4 linked regions of the Homo sapiens genome follow. The gene in region 1 interacts genetically with each later gene. Each region holds a gene or a part of one and is shown on either strand. Other genes may lie near its edges.

Region 1 (5,198 bases):
GGCAGACACTAAGGCCCAGAGATGCTATTTAATTTAGCAAAAGGCACATAATGAGTAATGAAAATCTCACACACCTATCCACCTCCAGTGAACTCCTGTATTACACAGAAGAGCTACATACTGTCTCCTGCTCTCATTCTAAGAAATAACAGTAGAGAGTTCTATTGAAGGAGTATATTTTCCTTACTAACCTAGATACTATATGTTAATCCAGCCTTTGCATTAATTATGAGCACCATTTTATAAGAGCCTAAGAACTTTAGGCTTGATGTTTATTGAATTCACAGTTGTGGTACTTCTAATTACCTCACTGTCAACAGCAACAAGACATCCTTCGAGACAATACCACTAATTTGGAGTTATTAATAAAGAACAGTTCACTTGGCTTTTACACACATAAAGCCAGACGTAGAATGCTACTGCAACTTTTAGGAAATCCAAGTTGACAAGGTATTCGAAGGAAGGTATGATTCTCACAAAGGAATCCAAACTTCAACATAGGAATATTTTAGTACCTTCAACTAAAATGTTACATGCTGTAAAATATGGTGCCCCTTTACATAGTTTAATGGAAAACAACCTAAGAGATGTGAAATTACTACAGGAATCAAATGAGCTAAATATGGAACATAAGCAAAAATAATGTTAAAATCTGAAACCTAACTAAAAACACTTGTATAATGGACCAATGGATTACAATACATCAATATAAAGGTGGTATTTATCTTTAAACTGGTCTTGTATTATACCACGCCACCCAAAGAGAATGGCTAGAAATAAGTTACCTAAAACAGTGTGAGCACAATAAAACACTTCCAAATAGCAAAAAACGTTATGTTTCAACTTCAAACAAAAGATGGAAAAGCACTTTAATGGCTACATAGTTTAATTTTTTTCTTTAATAACTGCGAAATGGCAAAACAAACATTAACTTAGTGATTTTAGATTAAAAGGAAAGGAGCAAGATCATACTGCTCTCATAAGACTCCAGGGATTGGTATACAGTGCAAGTAATTTAAAAAATAAATAAATAAATATAGTCTTTACTTGTTTTATTCCTTCATCTGGAGATTAAAATCTTCTATGTCAAATGTAAGTGAATGTCTGCCTGACAGGCTACATGAAACACACTTTCTTATAAGGAAACAGTTCCATGGAGACTGTTCACAGCTATGTAAACCTGAAAGTCATTGCCCTGCAGTTTCCAACTTACAGCACTTAGAACTTCATCTCTGTGCCCTTCTACGCCTCCAAATATTGCCACCAGAGTGTCCGTCTGGATATTCCATAATCGTAAAGCATGATCTAGTATAAACATACAAAAATTAGGCGAATGTTTTTTATTTACTGTGAACTTTCAACATCTTGTGAAAGAAAAACTACTAAAGTCTAGATGTAAGTTATGCACAGTAAAGCCTAAAAATGGAATCCATATTACATAGCAACTTAAAATGTTTACATCAGATGTAGAATTAGCTAGGTAAGTGCTATAGTTTGAATAGGCCCCCCCAAAAGCATGTGCTAGAAACTCAATCCCCAATGCAATAGTGGTGTGAGCTGGGGCCTAATGGGAGGTATTTAGGTCATGGGGGCTCCATCCTCACAAATGGATTAATACTGATTATAAAAGGGCCTGAGGCTATAAATTCAATCTCTTGCTCCCTCACACCCTCTCCTGCCCTTTTGCTGAGACGATTCAGCATGAAGGCTCTCACCAGATGCCGGCACCATGTTCTTGGACTTCCCAGTCTCCAGAAACAGGAGCCAAATAAATTTTTGTTCATTATAAATCACCCAGTCAGGTACGGTGGCTCATGCTTGTAACCCCAGCACTTCAGAAGGCCAAGATGGGAGGACTGCTTAAGCCCAGGAGTTTGAGACTAGCCCTAGCAATATAGCAAGACCCTGTCTCAACAAAAAATTTAAAAATTAGTGAAGCCTGAGCAATAGAAAAGAAATTAATTAATCCATCAGTCAGTCACCTAGTCTGTGGTATTGTGTTATAGCAGCACAAAATGGACTCAGACAGAATGTTGGTACTCAGAAACGGGACTATTGCTATAAATACCTGAAAATGTGGAAATGACTTTGGAACTGGGTAACGAGGAGAGGCTGGAAGAATCTGGAGGAGCAGGCTAGAAAAAGCCTATATTGGTGTGAGTGGAGCATTGAGGGTAATTCCAGTGAGGGCTGAAAAGAAGACAAGAGCTTCAGGCAGAGCCTTTATCTTCTTAAGGATTACTTAAGTGGTTGTGATCAGAATGTTGGTAGAACAATGTTGGTCTCAGACAGAATGAGGTTGGTCTCATTCAGTGAGGTCTCAGACAGAAATGAGAAGTTATTGGAAAATGGAGTAAGAGCTATCCCTGTTGGCAGGGTGTGATGGTTCATGCCTGTAATCCCAGCACTTTGAGATTGAGGCAGGAGGATCACTTGAGGCCAGGAATTCAAGACCAGCCGGGGTAACATAGTGAGACCCAATCCCTACAGAAAATAAATTAGCCAGGTGTGGTGGCGTGTACCTGCAGTTCTAGCTACTTAGGGGACTGAGGCAAGAGGATCAATTGAGCCTAGGAGTTTTGGGCTGCAGTGAGCTATGATCATGCCACTGCACTGCCTGGGTGACAGAGACCAACCCTGTCTTTAAAAGAAAAAAAAAAAAAGCCAGGCCAGGTGTGGTAGCTCATGCCTGTAATTCCAGCAGCATGGGAGGCTGAGGTGGGTGGACACTTGAGCTCAGGAATTCGAGACTAGCCTGGGCAACATGGTGAAACTCCATCTCTACAAAAAATACAAAAACTAGCGGGGTGTGGTGGCATGTGCCTGTAGTCCCAGCTACTCGGGAGGCTGAAGTGGAAGGATCACTGGCATGGTGCCGGCATCCGGTGAGGGCCTTCATGCTGAATCGTCTCACAGCAAAAGGGAAGGAGAGGGTGTGAGGGAGCAGAGGTTGTGCCACTGCACTCCAGCCTGGGTGACAAGAATGAGACCTTGCCTCAAAAAAATAAATTAAATAAATAAATAAAAGCCATCCTTGCAATACAGTTGTGAAGAACTTAGCAGGACTGTGTCCATGCCCTAGGACTTTGTGGAAGGCAGAAGTTAAGAGCAATGAATCCAATACCTGGCAGAAGAAATATCTGAGCATCAAAGCATTCACAGTGATGCATGGCTTCTTCTGGCTGCTTATCATAAAATGAGAAATGATCTAAAGGTGAAATTTGTAATTAAAAAGGAAAGCAAAACAGAAACATTTATAAACTCTCAGCCTGGCCATGTAAAGAAAAAAAAAGCAGGCTGGGTGTGGTGGCTCACACCTGTAATCCCAACACTTTCGAAGGCTGAGGTGGAAGGATCATTTGAGCCCAGAAGTTCAAGACCAGCCTGGGCAACATAGCAAGTCCTTGTCTCTTCAAAAAATATATAAAATAAAAAAGCATGTTTGAGAGAGAATATTAAGGATGTAGCTAAGTGACTAATTGCTAAGGAGATTAATAGGGAAGAGAAGGCAGGTTCTATTCACCAAGACAATGGGATAATGACCACAAAGGCATTTCAGAGATCTTCAAGACATAGCTAAGACCTTGAGGGCAAGGTTTCCAGAGTAGCACCCATGGGACCTCTACATTCACTGTCCAGGGCCACTTCAGCACTTTGCTCCCCCTATTCCAAGGCAGTGCTCTTTGGTCACCCCATAGCTTGAAGGGGCTCAAGTATGGCTCAGGCCATAGCTTCTGAAGGTACAAGCAGCAAATCTTGGCAGTGTCCATGTGGTGTTAAGTCTGCAGATGCAGAGAATGCAGGAACTGTGGAGGCACGGCTTCCTCTCTAGATTTCAAAAGACATCACAAAGAGCCTGGGGCTCCAGGCAGAAACTTTTCAGAAGGGCAGAGCCACACAGCAGTTCCTACTACAGCAACACCTGGTGGAGCCATGGGGAAAAAGCCATCCCCCAAATCCCAGAACTGCTGAGCTACCAGGGCACACCACCAGCCTGCAAGAGCTGCAGGCACCCGACTCCAACTCATAAGATGCTATGTGGGCTGCACGTGGCAAACCCATAAAGATGGGGCTGCCCAAGGCCTCTGGGGCCCAAACTCCACACCCAGCATGCCCAGAAGGCAAAACATGGAGCCAAGGAAGATTATTCTGGTGCCTTGGATTTAATCTTGTTTGTTCTGTTGAGTTTTGGATTTACTTGGGACCAGTTACCCTTATTCTTGCCTATCTCTCCTTTTTGGAAGGGACTGTCTATCCTATGCTTATCCTACCACTGTATTTTGAAAATAGATAAGATGCCTGATTTCCCAGACCCACAGATGGAGAATTTACCTCAGCAGGAATCCTGCCTTGAGTCTCACCCATATCTGATTGAGGATTTGAATTTTGGGGGCTAGAGGCAGAATGCTACAGCTTAAATGAACCCCCGAAAAAGCAGGTTGGGAAACTTAATCCCAATGCAGCAGTGTTGGGAGATGAGACCTAATGAGAAGCGTTAGGTCATGAGAGTACCACTCTTATGAATGAATTAATTCCAATTATATATTAAAAAAAAAAAAGGCTTCAAGTTCAATTTCTTGTTCTTACTTTCTAATGCCAGGTTAAAGTGGACTAAGACAGTAAGTTCAGAAATATTCATGTGGTCTGAAAAATATTTTAAGCATATTTATCTCAAATAACTTTCTTTAAATAACCTAATTTGATGGAAATATACTTTTGAAATAAAATACAGATTTGACATAAGCAATTTTATCCCACAGAACAAGATACTAGCTTTTCCCTTCACCATACTCACATTAAAAAATTGAAAGGGGACTGAGATTTATGATTTTTACAGTAAGCTGAAAACATAACTACATATATCATGCACAATTTTATAGAATGACAGTCCCTCTTCAAAAATTATGCAGCTATAATTTGAGCAATGTTATATTAAACATTAATAAAGAATGTACAGCAGTAGCTCACACCTGTAATCCCAGCACTTTGGGAGGCCAAGGTGTGAGGATCTTTTGAGGCCAGGAGTTTGAGACCAGGTTGGACAACATAATGAAACCGTATCTCTACAAAAAATTTTTAAAAATTAGCCAGGCATGGTGGTGTGCACATGTAGTCCCAGCTACTCAGAAGGATGAGGTGGGAACATTGCTTGAGGCCAGGAGCTCAAGCTACAGTGAGCTGTGATCACATCACTCTAC
Region 2 (5,198 bases), on another chromosome or scaffold:
CTCTGGGCTTTACATACCATCTCTATACTCTAGACTCCAAGTTTATTATTTCAGTCCCAACCTGTCCCCTGAACTCCAGACTCTATATCTGTTTATTAAACATCTCCACTAAGAGGCCCGATAGACAAGTCCCACTTAAAATGCCTCGGACTTAACGCCTAGACGTGCTTCTCCAGTCTTTGCTATCTTGGTAAATGACATCTCACTGTACCCAGTGGTCTCCTCCTGGTTCTTCTTCTTGGTAAACCCCAGGCCCAGTCCACTAAGAAATCCTTTGGGTGTCTCACTGCCTCTACTGCTGTCCTGATCTGGGATCCATCAGGTCACCTGGTGTACTGTATGTACACCATACAGTAGCCACCTGACCACCCCTTCCTCACCCCCTCAGCCTTCTCATGACACTCAGAGTAAAATATGCCCTTATTGTGGCCTGTGGGGCCTGGGTGACCTGGGCCCTGGCTCTCCTCTCCTCTACCTGCTGACATTCTCCCCTTTGTCTCCTCACCTCTGGCCTCAGTAGCATTGCAAACCTGCTGTCTCCTCAGGGCCTTTGTACTTGCTCCTCTCTCTGTTCCGAGTGCTCTTCCTCCACATTTCCACGTGGCCTACTCCCTCACTTCTTTAATATTCTGCTCAAACACCTCCGCCTTGCCAGGCCACTCTGACTAACATGGGATAGCCTCTCCACATCACCCTGTCCCGTTAACTCTCAATCAGCTCGGGTTACCATAACAAAAATGCAGCCAGAAACAACCGAAATTTATTTCTTACAGTTCTGGAGGCTGGGAAATCCAAGATCAAACTGCCCATGAGGTAGGTTTTATTCTGAGCCTCTTCCCTGGGCTTGTAGATGACGAGAACTGTCCCAGTGTGTGTTCACATGATGTCTTCTTTGTGCTCTGAGGGAGAGAAGGAGTCACAGAGAGAGAGAGAGAGCTCTTGTGTCTCTCATGAGGGCACTAATCCCATTTAAGGCTCTACCGTCATAACCTAATTACCATCTCCAAATAAATCTCCAAATACAATCACACTGGGAAGTAGGGTTTCAGCATATGAAATTAGGGGTATGCAGTTCAATCCATAGCACCCTTTTATTTTTTTCCACAGTATTTATCATCTCCTGACATACTATACAGTTAGGTGTTACTTAACAGTGTTTATTCAACAGTGGACCACATATGTGACAGTGGTCCTGTAAGTTTATAATGGAGTTGACAAAATTCCTACGGCCTTGTGACATCATAGTTGTCATAATGTCGTAGTGCAATGCGTTACTTACATGTTTGTGGTGGTGATGGCATAAACATACTCTACTCCCAGTCACATAAAAGTATAGCACATATAATTATGTACAGTACATAATATTTGATAATTAAATGACTGCATTACTGATTTATGTACTACTATGGTTTTTATTGTTATTTTAGAATGTACCACTTTTTTTTTAAGTTAGCTCTAGAAGCAAGGTCCTTCAAGAGGTATTCCTCTTCAAGGCATTATCATCACAGGAGTTGACAGCTCCATGCGTGCTACTGCCCCTGAAAGACCTTCCAGTGCGATAAGATGTAGAAGTGGAAGACAGTGATATTGATGGTCCTGTGGAGTCCTAAGCTAATGTGTATATGTGTCTTAGTTTTTAACAAAAAGTTTAAAAAGTTAAACAACTTTAAAAAGAAATTTTAAATAGAAAAAACTTATAAGAATATAAAGAAAGAAAATATTTTGGTACAACTATACAAAGTGTGTTTTAAGCTAATGGTTATTACAAAAGAGTCAAAATTTTTTTAATTAAAAAGTTTATAAAGTAAAATTACAGTAAACTAACGTTAATTTATTATTGAAAGAAAAATACTTTTATAAATGTATTAATAATGGCTAAGTGTACCATGTTTATAAAGTTTACAGTACTATACAGTAACGTCCCAGGCCTTCACATTCACTTATTACTCACTTACTAACTCATCCACTGCAACTTCCAGTCCTGCGAGTTTCATTCATGATAAATGCCCTATACAAAGTGCCCTGTATTTATGTATAGGGTTATAAAATGTATAACCCTATAGAAAGGTATCATTTTTCATCTTTTATAGTGTATTTTTCTGTGTTTAGATACACAAATACTTCAGTACAGTAACATATGCTACACAGGTTTGTAACCTAGAAACAGTAGGCTGTGCCAACTACATTTGTGACAGTGTGCTCTATGATGTTTGTACAAGAATTAAATTGCCTGTGTTTCCCAGCATGTATCCCTGTCATTAAGGGACACATGACTAGACTTATTGATTTATTGTCTGTCCCGTCCCACTAGGATGCACAATTCTAAGAGTGTGGTGACTTTGTTTATCCACTGGCCCCTTGTTCCTAGTATGGCATCTGGCTAATGGTAGATAACTAATCAGTGTGACTATATTCACTTACTGCCATTATGTTTGTAATAATAAGCTAACAGCAGTTATCTTTGTTCTAACTCTGCATCATTTAAGTCAACTTGTATGTTCAAGAAGAAGAAGAATGGCATGAAAATTGTTTTTTAGATTTTCACGGTAACATTTTATTTTCTATTATAGGTAATGAATATTCGAACAGTACTGAACAAACTGGAAAAACCACAAGGCCTTTATCCTAACTATCTGAATCCCAGTAGTGGACAGTGGGGTCAACGTAAGTCAGAAGATTTGCATTATTATAGCTCTTTTTGGTACTGTACTCGTGGAGAGAGAGGAAGCACAAAAGCAGCACAGATTTTGTTGAGAAATGTTTAGAAAAGGAGAAAAGGGCATGGCTCCTTTAATAAACAGGCTTCTGTCATCAGATTGTGTTATTAGGACACTGGATTGTGTATTTTTCATATATAACTCCAAGTGTGATGACATATAAGCACATTTACAGCTATTAATCAGAAAGGGAAGATCTGGCCAGAGTAGTGTGGGGATGTTAATCTGTAACAAGCTGGTCATGTGGATAGAAAGGAAATTCATTCCTTTGTACTAATGACTATGAGGGTTTTATAGAGAGTAGGTAGACCATTCTGCTTCCTAACATTCTGTTTCTGCATGGCTATATAATGAGAGAGGAGCCTGAATTTTTAAGAGTTGGGAAATTGGAAGAGCAAACAGCCTGTTTTTCTCTTCTTAATTTTAAGCTGCCAGATATAAAGGTTTCTTGCCAGTAGAATTACCTTTAGGATGGGAGAAAGTATTGCACAAGAACTTTTGATCCTAGAAGCCTGCACTTAAGACTCTTCAGACGATTTTGAGCAGGGGCATAAAGATTCAGAGTAGTTGAAAGAAATGTTCTCAAGCTGATTTGGAAAAACAGTAGTAGATTAAATAGCTGAAAACAAGTGAAGAATATTGAGATACCCAACTGTAGCAAGAGTACACTGCCTTAAGATTTTACTCTAATTTGGGTTTTTTCTTTATATTTTAATATCATGTTCTTAGATACCTCATTATTACTTTAGAAGTACTTTTCTTAAAGAATAGTTTAATAGGAAAGTATATGCCAAAATCCATATGCTAAAATATGTCTGTAGCTCTGGAAGGCCTAGCTGTTGAAACCTTAGGACTATAATCAAGGTTACCACTTACCTAAGTGTGGTCAACAGATCACTGGAAGTCCTTGAGACCTCTGAGGAGGCCCACAAGGTCAAAAATATTTTTATTATAATACTAGTATAATGATATATAATAACAAGACATATAATACATGTCTTAGTCATATTTACTAAGCCAGTACACAGTATCTTGCACTTAGTGGATGTTTACTTACTTAAATTTTGTGAATACATATGTGCTCTGTATCTCATCTCTCTTTCTGCCTCTGCTTTTAATAGTGGTACTTTGAAAGACTTTCTGCCTTTTCTAATGTGTTGATATTTACACCTACAGTGTTAGGTGATACTGCTGAAGCCTCACTGAGAACAAAGGCGAACAAACACCAAATAGTACTAATATTCATATTTTTTCTTTTTTTTTTCTTTTTTGTGGGACAGGGTCCCACTGTGTCACCCAGGCTGGAGTACAGTGTCATAATCTCAGCTCATTGCAACCTCTGCCTCCTGGGCTCAAGCTGGGCTCAAGCTATCTTCCCACCTCGGCCCCCCGCCCCGAGTAGCTGGGACTACAGGTGCACGATGCCATGCTCAGCCAATTTTTAATTTTTTTTTTTTTTGGTAGAGAGAAGGTCTCATATTTCCCAGGCTGGCCTCAAACTTTTAGGCTTGAGCGATCCCTTTGCCTTGGCCTCCCAAAGTGTTGGGATTACAGGCATGAGCCACCACACCAGCCCCCATTGTATTCTTAATAGCATTTTAAAAAAGGATACTGGTTTCACTTATGAATGTGCTTACTGAAACAGTAAAAAAAAAAAATTAGTGATTCTAATAAATACCAACCTGTGAGTACACACCTTTGTCATGTTCTGTGAGGTGAAATGGAAAATACTCATAAATCACTCCTGCTGAATTATGAAAAATGATAGTTGCATCAAGGAAAAGCTCTTGGGTGTTTTGAGTTGCAAGCTGAGCTAGCCACTTACTGTTTCACAGATTCAACATTTTTACTTGAAAGAACAATTTAAAAAATGATTATTTAGGCTAGGTAGTCAGGAGCCATGTTCTTGAAAATGAGCTTGTCACTTCAAGAAAAAGTCACAGTATTTGTGCCAATGATTATAATCCAAGTTTCTAAATAAAAAATAGAATTTTGGAAAACTTGTACATGCTACCATGAGCTTGACACAAATACTTTTCCTGTTAGATTGATGATGATATTAACAAATGTGGTTTTCTGATATTGTATAATGGAATGGGTCAATATTTGAAAGATCTGCATAGTTCAGTGAGCCAGGATTTTCCAAATGACCAAAGCATGATATTATAAGATCATATATGGAAAACAATCTGTGTAAAGTACAAGATAGACCAGTGGCTTTTAATGTAACAATACGAAAATTCATTGATGTAATTTCTAATTTTACAATGCAATTAACCTTTAAAAAAGAAACCACTTGTTGACTATTGTTGTAATATCAAAGAAAAATATCCACAATTGTGTGAAAAGCCTGTTAAAATATCCTTTCTTTTTCTGACTGTATTACTGTGTGAGGCTGACTTGTCTTGATGTATTACAGCCAAAACAACATATAGCAAAGGATTGAAAGTAGGGCAGACATGAGTATCCAGCTGTCTCCTG
Region 3 (5,198 bases), on another chromosome or scaffold:
ATGGATAAATGGGCACTTAGTCTCTACAATGTTGGCATACATGCTCTCCCTCAAACTGATGGCATAATGATTTTATATATATATGTGTGTGTGTGTGTGTATATATATATATATATACATTTACAAATACTTATTTTTTTCTTTTTAAACAGAGTCTCACTCTGTCGCCCGGGCTGGAGTGCAATGGCATGATCTAGGCTCACTGCAACCTCCACCTCCCGGGTTCAAGCAATTCTCCTGCCTCAGCCTCCTGAGTAGCTGGGATAACAGGTGCATGCCACCATGCCAGGCTAATTTTTTTTTGCACTTTTAGTAGAGATGGGGTTTCACCATATTGGTCAGGCTGGTCTCGAACTCCTGACCTCGTGATCCACCTGCCTCGGCCTCCCAAATTAGAGGCGCGAGCCACCATGCCCGGCTAAATTATCTACATATTTTCTATGACTGTATCTTGCTTTTAAAGCACATGTACTGTCTGTCCAGATTACCTCTGCTGCCTTGAATACAAAGCATTTCATATTGCTGTCACTCCTGCGTAGTGCAAACACTTTCCAATGAAGTAGACAGAACTTCAGAAAATACCCTAAGGAGCCATGTTAAAAACGACCAAGACTTGTTCAACTAGCAACAAAGATGGCCCCTAACGCTGCAATAAGTTTAAACTTTGATCCTTAGTTCTAAGTGAATCAATCCCAATTAAAATGCAGGACTTCATCTACTGTATTTTATTAACATAGTTGAGTATCTTAATCCTAGCTGTGAACTAAATATTCAGCACCCCAAGGCTGAATATGGTATTCAGTTTAAAACACCTACTCCACAACAGAAGTCTCCTTGCTTTCACATTGGCTTCCACCAAATTGTAAAATTAAATGACAAGCATAAAGTTATACAACTCAGCATAGATAACTATCCAAGTGATATGCAGTATCATTCAGGAATTTAGGCTCCTTTGTGGGACATTTTATCATCTTTTAAAGCAAGTTAAGTTTAGAGGCAATAAAGACAAAATGCCGGGGTTTAAACCCTACTGCTGCCTTTTTTTAAGACAGGGTCTCACTCTGTCTCCCAGGCTGGAGTGCACTGGCTCCATGACAGCTCATTGCAGCCTTGACCTCCTGGGCTCAGTTGGTCCTCCCACCTCAGCCTCACCAGTAGCTCGGACTACAGGCACCCACCAACACACCCGGCTAATATTTTTGCAGAGATCAGGTTTTACTATGTCGCCCAGGCTAGTCTTCCAACTCCTGGGCTCAAGCTGCCCACCTCAGCCTCCCAAAGTGCTGGAATTCCAAACATGAACCACTCCACCTGGCCCCCTGCCTCTTACTAATTGTGTAACATTAAGAAAAAATATTAAAGTCCAAGATTGTTTTCCCATCTGTAAAAAGAGCATACCTCAGATATTTGCAGAGGGTTAAAACTAGTTAACACACTTAAAGGACACAGAATAGTCTGACACACATCCTAAATGATTGATAGAAGTTACTATTTTGAAGGGGTAAAGCACTATAAGCACTATCTAAACATAATTTAATAAAGCAAACTTTTTATTTACTCAATGGCTTAATTTTTTAAAACTGCATAGGCTTTATAAACTTTCCAACATTAAAAGGAAAAGGCCACAATGAGTTTTATATAAACATATTCTAATATTTTCAATGCTGCCAACTTGAAATAACCCAGAAATTTTTAAATAGTCCATGTAAAAAAATATATAAACTAAAAATTAGGTGGTATTTCAACTAAGACCCTTTAAATGTAGCTTCCAAAATCACCTTGATGACTTGGTCTACCCTACATTTATGCCAGTAATTTTAGTAAAGAATAATTTAAAACATAAAAGGAAATATACATGGAGCAATCCTGGCTGGTGGAAAATGTTCCGATTTAATAATCCTGGCTTTTCCCCATCAATAAACTTATTCTCTGGACTATTTAGGTCACTAGGTTTTTAACATTCCCAGTCAATATTAACTATTTTATTCCAAGATACCTCCCCTAATAAGTCTTTATTGTCAAACACCTTATTCAAGGTAAAAAGTTAGCCATTATACTCACTCCCAATTTTGGAATAGTATTCTTTTTCTATGTTCTATAACTTCGTATTATTTTTACTTTTTTAGAGACGAGATCTTGCTCTGTTACCCAGGCTAGTCACAGAACTCCTGGACATAGCGATCAGCCTCCCAAAGTGCTAGGATTACAGGCATGAGCCACCACACCCAGCCAATCCTTTAACTTTTAAACACTTCCTAACAACTTATGATCTTACATACATGGCTTTATAACAAGTTCTGACAGTTTAAAAAATACAACAGAATGTCAACCTGATATACATTTCAGGTATAAAACATAAATGACCAATCACTGTCATCTTTTAAAGTAATGTTACTCAAGCACACCATTAAATCCTTACTGAATTTTTCCAGTATTTTATCCATCATAATTATTCTTCTAAAATCCTAAAATGACAAACTAAAGCTAAGTCACTAGTTACCTAAGGGGAAGGGAGGAGGTTACAATGCAACTAGATAATATCACACGTTAGGGTATTTTACAAGTTGTATGAAAACTACCTTGGGAGAGAGCTTGACAAGCTTTCATCGAGTTCAAATACTAACCAGCCTTTTTAGATCTGATCTGGTATAAAATTCATGAAAACCACTTTTTTGAGACAGAGTCTCGCTCTATTGCCAGGCTGTGGTGCAATGGTGTGATCCTGGCTCACTTCAACCTCTGCCTCCCAAGTTCAAGCAATCTTCCCATCTCAAGCTCCTGGGTAGCTGAGACTATGGGTGCACACCACGAGGCCCAGCTAATTTTTTTTTTTTTTTTTTTTTTTTGTAGAGACAGGATCTCATCATGTTGCCCAGGCTGGTCTGGAACTCCTGGGTTCAATCTGCCCACCTCAGCCTCCCAAAGTGCTATATTACAAGCGTGAGCCACCGCACCCAGCCCACTTTTTTTAACTATTTAAAACTAATGAGACATTAAGGTTAGCCAATAACAAATCTTCCCCAAAAAACACTTTAGTCAATAAAAATATAAATTTTGGTATTATTTCCCCATCATTAAAGAATAGGTATTCCTCTCCCCCAGCTTTCTACAGATGACATTTTCAAGGTAAGTGTGAAAAAGAATTCCATTTATTCAAGACTAATATACAATGGACCAAACATTTTCAGAGACTTCTCTGTATTAAATCTCATTACTTCACACTTTAGAATGAACCTAACTAAATGACTACTAAAAAGCGAAGTTGAAAAAATAAACATCTAATAAATGAAACATGACAGTTTTTTTGGGAGGGGGACAGAGTCTCGCTTTGTCGCCCAGGCTGGAGTGCGGTGGCGCGATCTTGGCTCACTGCAACCTCTGCTTCCCGGGTTCAAGCTCTTCTCCTGCCTCAGCCTCCCAAGTAGATGGGACTACAGATGCCCACCATCATGCCCGGCTAATTTCTGTATTTTTAGTAGAGACAGGGTTTCAACATGTTGGCCAGGTTGGTCTCGAACTCCTGACCTCAGGTGATTCGCTTGCGTCAGCCTCCCAAAGTGCTGGGATGACAGGCATAAGCCACCGCGCCCGGCCAACATGACAGTTTTTTAAATAAACTTTTTTTTTCTTTTTTTGAGACGGAGTCTTGCTCTGTTGCCCAAGCTGGAATGCAGTGGTGCAACCTTGTCTCACTGCAACCTCCGCCTCCAGGGTTCAAGTGATTCTCCCGCCTCAGCCTCCTGAGTGACTACAGGCGCATGTAACCACACCTGGCTAATTTTTGTATTTTTAGTAGAGCTGGGGTTTCGCCATGTTGGCCAGGCTGGTCTCCAATTCCTGACCTTAGGTGATCCACCCATCTTGGCCTCCCAAAGTGCTGAGATTACAGGTGTGAGCCACTACGCCTGGCCTAAAAATAAAACACTTTAAGAGACCAGGTCTCACTATCAAAATGCAGTGGCTCCATCATAGCTTCCTGCAGCCCTGAGCTCCTTCCTGGGCTCAACACATTCTCCTGCCTCTGCCTCCTGAGTAGATGTAACTACAACTACAAACACACCCCCCAACACACTAGCCTTTTTTTTTTTTTTTTTTTTAAAGAAACAGGGGTCATATTATGTTGCCTAGCTGGTCTAGAAATCCTGGCATGAAATGATCCTCATACCTCAAGACTTCTGAGTAGCCAGTGATTACAGGCACGAGCCACTACTTTAATTAACTTTAAATGCTTAATCCAATACCTCCTTTTCACTTCACTACAAGGAAGCAATGACATCTTGTATGTTTACGTTTTAAATAAGCTCTCAATCAGCTTTGTAAGGTAAACTCCCATTTACCTAGAGGTTAAGGAATAGGTATTTTCCTTAACCTGAAGGTTAAGGTTCTGGTTAACTGAGATTACTACATATTCACAATTCTATAAAACTGTGTACTGGAAATCAATTTAGGTATCAATGCTGAAGTCAGAAAATGATTTGTACCTTGATGAATTTTCCAACGTTTTAAAATCATGTTACTTTTCAAAAGTGTAAGGAAAAATCTGTAGGAGATTCATTCCATGACATTGTCTGTTGGTTGCTTTTTGAGTATATTTTCTCATGGCTTCATCTATCTTGCTCATAAGACTAAATGGGGAGACAGACTTCCTGGCTGTGTGGGCTCTGTGGTAGTCTGAAGTCTAGATAAGCAGGAGTTTACAGTGCAAGACCCAATACTTAAACTGTCACCTTGATTACTGGCCAAGCACCACCAGTAAATTGGAGTCTTCCCTCCCCACCCCCAAATATTCTTAAATACCTAGCTCCAACGTACAATATAATACTCCAGAAACTAAAACATGCTTACCTTTACTCCACAGGAGTAAATCACTGGCAGTATCAACTATTAGGGCACTGGATAAATACACACAAGCTATGAAAGCAGGCTATGTAGTCAATCCTCCTGTGGTGAGCATTGTTTCCAACACATAGATCAGCAAACCAAGTAACAAACATGTCGTATTACCTGAAACCACACTGTTGGAAGTGAAGCAACAGAAAGAGATCCCACGCTTTCAGCATCCAGTTCAGTGCCCTATCTACTAAAACGTTGAAGCAGAACTGAAGTCAAATCAAGCTTGGACTAACATAAGTTATGTTTCACCCATTTGTAAATGTGCACACACTTGAGGTACACAGCTTCCAAGTGGAATGGGAAAA
Region 4 (5,198 bases), on another chromosome or scaffold:
CACTTATTGATAAATGGGTATAATAATACTATTTACTTTAGAGGATTAAAGAAGTTAATATATGTAAAGCATTTAGAACAGTGAATGGCATATAATGTAATATATTAATATATTAATATTAATAAGACTAATATTAGGATTAATGTTTTGTTGGTATTAATAAAATAAATATATGCTATACTTATCAAAGATATATAAAGATGAAAGTATAAAACACTAGAGTAAAACATGGTTTTATAGTTTTATAATCTTGAAATGAAGAAACCTCTACTAAGTATGATTTAAAAATCTGTCAAGCATAAAAAAAGAATTTTACTACATAATCAAGAAACTATAGCAAAAGATACCATGAACAAAGTGAAAACATAACAGTAACCTGGGGGAAATACTTACAGCACATAACATTAGGCTAATTTTCTACTGTGTGAGAACAGCTAGAAATCATTAAGGAAATCGCAATGCTACAGAAAAAGCAAACAGCAGAGAAAGACACCCAAATGAGAGTCTCAGCATCATTCAAAGTTAACTACTGTAAACTAAAGTGTTTCTCACTTTTCAGATTGGCAGAGATTAATATATAGTCAGTATTGGGACAATGAGGCAATATGAAGCATTATTGATGGGAGGTATAAATTGATAGACCTTTTAAGAGATATTTGCCAATAATGTCAATTTTAAAAACATAAACCTTTTGAACTTCCAGTTTGACTTCTAGAAATTTGTCTTATAGCTTCATCATAAAAGTTGACCTCATAAATATAGATTAGTTCAACCCCAAGATATTCATCAATGGAGATTTGGTGAATAATGTTATATCTCTACAATAAAGTACTATATGTAAATTTTTAAAAGAATAATGAGGATTTATATATGCTAATACTTAAGGATATTCAGCATATATTAAGTAAAAGCAAGTTGCGGAACTGTAATATCCTTTTTGTGTGTTTAAAAAATCAAGTAAATTATATACATGCTTACATATGCATTACATAGATACATGGATATACAGAGGATGCATAAGCATTAACTGTAACTATATCTGGGAAATAGGATATAAGCTACTAGGCAGAGATTTTTAATTCATACTCTTTATTGTTTGAATTTTTTCTACAGTGGGTATATTGTTACTTTTCTAGTTAGGAAAAATAAAAACTGAGAAAAAAGTTTTAGCTGTGTGCAGTGGCTCATGCCTATAATCCCAGCATTTTGGGAGGTTGAGGGAGGAGAGTCACTTGACTCTAGGAGTTTAAGACCAGCCTGGGCACACAGTGAGACCCTGTCTCTACAAGAAAATAAATTTAGAAACATTGGCTGGGCCGTGGTGTATGGGAGACCAGCCTGGGCAACACAGTGAGAGCCTGTCTCTGTAAAAAATAAATAAGTAAAAATTAGCTGGTCACCATGGTGCACGCCTGTGGTCCCAGCTGCTCGGGAGGCTGAGGTGAGAAGATTGCTTGAGCCCAGGAGAACAAGGCTGTAGTGAACCATGATCATGCCATCGCGCTCTATAGCCATCACACTCTATAGAGCCTGGGGTCAGAGCGAGACCCTGTCTCAAAGTTTAAACTTCTTCCAGGATGGGTATATTAGTTACTGATAGCTGCATAACAAAATACCCCCTAAGCTTAACAACTTGTAAAACAACAACTATTTATTTCACAGTTTCTCAGGAAGATAAACTTGGGAGCAGCCTAGCTAGGTGGTTCTGGCTCAGGGTCTCTCATGAGATAACCTGTTGGCTGGGCTATAGTTATCTCAAGATTCTACTGAGTTTGGAGGATCTGCCTGAAAGCTCAGTCGTGGTTGTTGGCAGATCTTAGTTTCTCTTTGGCTGTTGGCCAGAGAGTTAAGTTCCTCCTTGCATGGGCTTCTTCATAGGGCTGTTCACGGCTTGGCAGGTTAGCTTCTTTCAGACTGGGGTATCTGAGAGAAAGAGAGCCAGAGCTCAAGACTGGGCTAACATGGAAGTGACATATCATCACCTTTGCCGTATGCTACTGTTCATACAGACCAGTCCTGGTACATTGTGAGGGAGGACTACAAGGGTGTGAATAACAGGAGGTGGGGATCATTGGGGGCCATGTTGGAGGCAGGCTACCATAATGGGTCTATAACAGTGTATACCTTTTGTAATAAGTTGGGATTATGGAAAAGAAAGTTAATTGCTTCAATATTTAAATGGGGGCTATTTTTAAAAATTAGTTATCTCTTTACAAATACCTGTAAATACTTGCTTTTTCAGGTCCAGCCCAGAATCAAATGCAGGTTCCATCTGGATATGGATTGCATCATCAAAACTATATTGCTCCCTCAGGACATTACTCTCAAGGACCTGGGAAAATGACCTCATTGCCATTGGATACCCAGTGTGGTGATTACTACTCTGCTCTCTATACAGTACCAACACAAAATGTGACTCCTAACACAGTGAACCAGCAACCAGGAGCACAGCAGTTGTACAGCAGGGGTCCTCCTGCCCCTCATATTGTGGGATCCACTCTAGGATCTTTCCAAGGTGCTGCATCGTCAGCATCCCATTTGCATACGAGTGCCTCCCAACCATACTCCTCTTTTGTGAATCACTACAATAGTCCAGCCATGTACTCTGCCAGCTCTTCTGTTGCGTCTCAGGGATTTCCCTCTACTTGTGGTCATTATGCTATGTCAACTGTTTCTAATGCCGCGTATCCTAGTGTTTCATATCCCTCTCTGCCTGCTGGTGATACATATGGGCAAATGTTTACCTCACAGAATGCTCCGACTGTTAGGCCAGTTAAAGATAATTCATTCTCTGGTCAAAATACAGCTATCAGCCATCCATCGCCACTTCCACCTCTACCATCACAACAGCACCACCAGCAGCAAAGTCTTTCAGGATACAGTACTCTAACGTGGTCATCTCCAGGCCTTCCATCGACTCAAGACAATCTCATCCGAAACCACACAGGATCCCTGGCTGTAGCGAACAACAACCCAACCATTACTGGTAGGTTGAATGAAAAGTTCACCAAAACATGTTTGAAAATCAGTGCATTCCCAATTAAGTTATTATTTACATGAAGGTTAGAGGTGATATTGCCTAATAGAAAAACTGGAAGTTTGCTAATTTATTGTGGCTTTTTGTAGCACCTCTTTGAACCCTTTCTTCTCATCCATTCCCAATTAGCCACCCAACCATCTGCCTTGTCTAGCTTGGTTCCTTGCCATGATCAGTCAACATTTATTGATATATTTTATACATCTGCAATAGTTGTCTTTAATGTGAATTAGATACAGGGCAAAATGGAAGGGTCTGTTTTGAGGATATGTTGGCCACTATTTTCTCTTTTATACTAGTTCAACCTTGGGACAGTTGTTTTTTTAGCCAGAGCCCCACTTACTTAGAAAAAAGGATGGTTTGCAGCAGTGCACTGGTTTCCCCAAGTTAGCCCCTATTAGTGACTTTTGCAGAAGACATCTTTCCTGCACGTAAACAGTGTTTCTCATTTTCAGATTAGTAAGTTAGGCTGAAAGATGGGGAAGGGAAAGGAAGATGCATGAAGAATACCCTGGTATTCAGCCCTTCTGACCTTCCTAAACCAAGGTGTTGTTAAATTTTTTCATTTAAAAATTATGTATGTAAGACGTGGCTTGCCCTTTTTTTTTTTTTTTGACACAGGGTCTCACTTTATCACCCAGGCTGGGCATGATCTCAGCTCACGGCAGCCTTGACCTCCTGGGCTCAAGCGATCCTCCCATCTCAGCCCCACAAGTAGCTGGGACTACCAGGCATACGCCACCACACCCAGCTAATTTTGTAGAGATGGGGTTTTGCCATGTTGCCCAAGCTGGTCTCGAACACGCGAGCTACTGTGCCTGGCCCAATGTGGCTTTTTAAGTGCAGTGTTTCCTTTCCCTAGGATATATTCATTTTAATTCAATTTGTGACTTGAATTTAACAGAATCTGCTTTTGAACCGAATGAAAATGCATGTAAAAAATGGGAATTGGTAAAGCTGTGGTAACTTTTGGAATGATGCCTTTAGATTGTGTATCATTATCTGGATAGCCATGTGTCAAAGATGCTGTGGAAAGATATCCTTCTCTGGACAATGAGATTATTTAAAATTAGAACTTTAATATTAGACCCAAGCTGTACATTTGAGATCATCTACTCTTTCATTGCTATGTCGTTTAGAAATGCTTTCAGATACAAGCAGCTAATAGTAGTTTAAACAAAAAGGGGGTATTTTCCTCACATCACAAGTCTAGGTGGATGCAGTGGATCCCGCTGTTCTTGGTATCCTTTTTTCTCTTTCCACTCTGCCACCTGCAGCATGTAGGTTATAGAAACAAGATACTTCTGTACCTATAGACATTAAGTCAGAATTAAAAGCACCAAGAAGGGAGAGGAAAGGGGACTGGTTAGTGGCATTGACAGACTTCATTTTACAGATCATTTGCCATAGCTGTTTAAAAGACCATTCCTAGCTTCAGGGAAGGCTGGAAAATGAATATTGAATCTTTTTTTTAGCATCCATAGTAGAGGCGAACAAGAAAAAAGGGAGTTAGCACTGACTTGGGTGAGTCAACTCAAAGTGTCTGTCACAGTTCCGAAATCTGGCTGTCTACCAGAATCACTGGCACAGATTGTGATATTCAACTACAAATTACTGAGCTAGAATAGAATCTCCAGGGTACTCTTGAGAATCTATTTCTAACTGGATCTTCAGTGATGCTGTGAAACACATCTAAATTTTACTGTAGTCCTTTTGTTTTACAAATGAAGAAAGTTATCCAAGTTGAATTGCCTGTGGTCATTAATGGTAGAAACAGAGCTTGGCCTAGAGGTCAGTTTCTTCTGTCTCCCTCAGAACCAGGGCTTTCTGTCCTCTAGAAATTGTTTTCCTCTCTCTTCTTTCAACATTCTATTTACAGATCCACTTATCCTAAAGTCCTTCCAACTTAAGGATTTTGTGACTTTCATGACAAAGGAAATACAAGTAATTCCTATCTTAGTTCTGAGGTGGAAATAGCACCCTGGATGGAACTAATTTATATTGAGATGTGTCAGGGAAATATGGGGTCACTTGGCTAATGAACAGAACATGTAATTGGGAAAGGCCTGTCATTAAGAAAAGATTAAATAAAGGGGGAGAATAATTACAAAACTATTCTCTGTTTGAGTAACTGCTCTAATGGGTCCTGTAGGCAGAGAGG

Evidence for each region.
Region 2: changes in EED (region 1) and MAN1A1 together harm fitness more than expected from each alone (negative genetic interaction), as found in Homo sapiens cells (one large-scale study listed by BioGRID).
Region 3: changes in EED (region 1) and HNRNPD together harm fitness less than expected from each alone (positive genetic interaction), as found in Homo sapiens cells (one large-scale study listed by BioGRID).
Region 4: changes in EED (region 1) and SEC24B together harm fitness more than expected from each alone (negative genetic interaction), as found in Homo sapiens cells (one large-scale study listed by BioGRID).

What each region holds. Positions count from the first base shown.
Region 1 is NC_000011.10:86,260,279-86,265,476, reverse strand, and holds part of EED (polycomb protein EED), read right to left. Parts: intron 1,306-5,198; coding exon 1,214-1,305; intron 1-1,213. UniProt on the Homo sapiens protein: Polycomb group (PcG) protein. Component of the PRC2/EED-EZH2 complex, which methylates 'Lys-9' and 'Lys-27' of histone H3, leading to transcriptional repression of the affected target gene.
Region 2 is NC_000006.12:119,198,720-119,203,917, reverse strand, and holds part of MAN1A1 (mannosyl-oligosaccharide 1,2-alpha-mannosidase IA), read left to right. Parts: intron 1-2,570; coding exon 2,571-2,664; intron 2,665-5,198. UniProt on the Homo sapiens protein: Involved in the maturation of Asn-linked oligosaccharides. Progressively trim alpha-1,2-linked mannose residues from Man(9)GlcNAc(2) to produce Man(5)GlcNAc(2).
Region 3 is NC_000004.12:82,362,950-82,368,147, forward strand, and holds part of HNRNPD (heterogeneous nuclear ribonucleoprotein D0), read right to left. Parts: intron 1-5,198. UniProt on the Homo sapiens protein: Binds with high affinity to RNA molecules that contain AU-rich elements (AREs) found within the 3'-UTR of many proto-oncogenes and cytokine mRNAs.
Region 4 is NC_000004.12:109,460,659-109,465,856, forward strand, and holds part of SEC24B (protein transport protein Sec24B), read left to right. Parts: intron 1-2,242; coding exon 2,243-2,986; intron 2,987-5,198. UniProt on the Homo sapiens protein: Component of the coat protein complex II (COPII) which promotes the formation of transport vesicles from the endoplasmic reticulum (ER).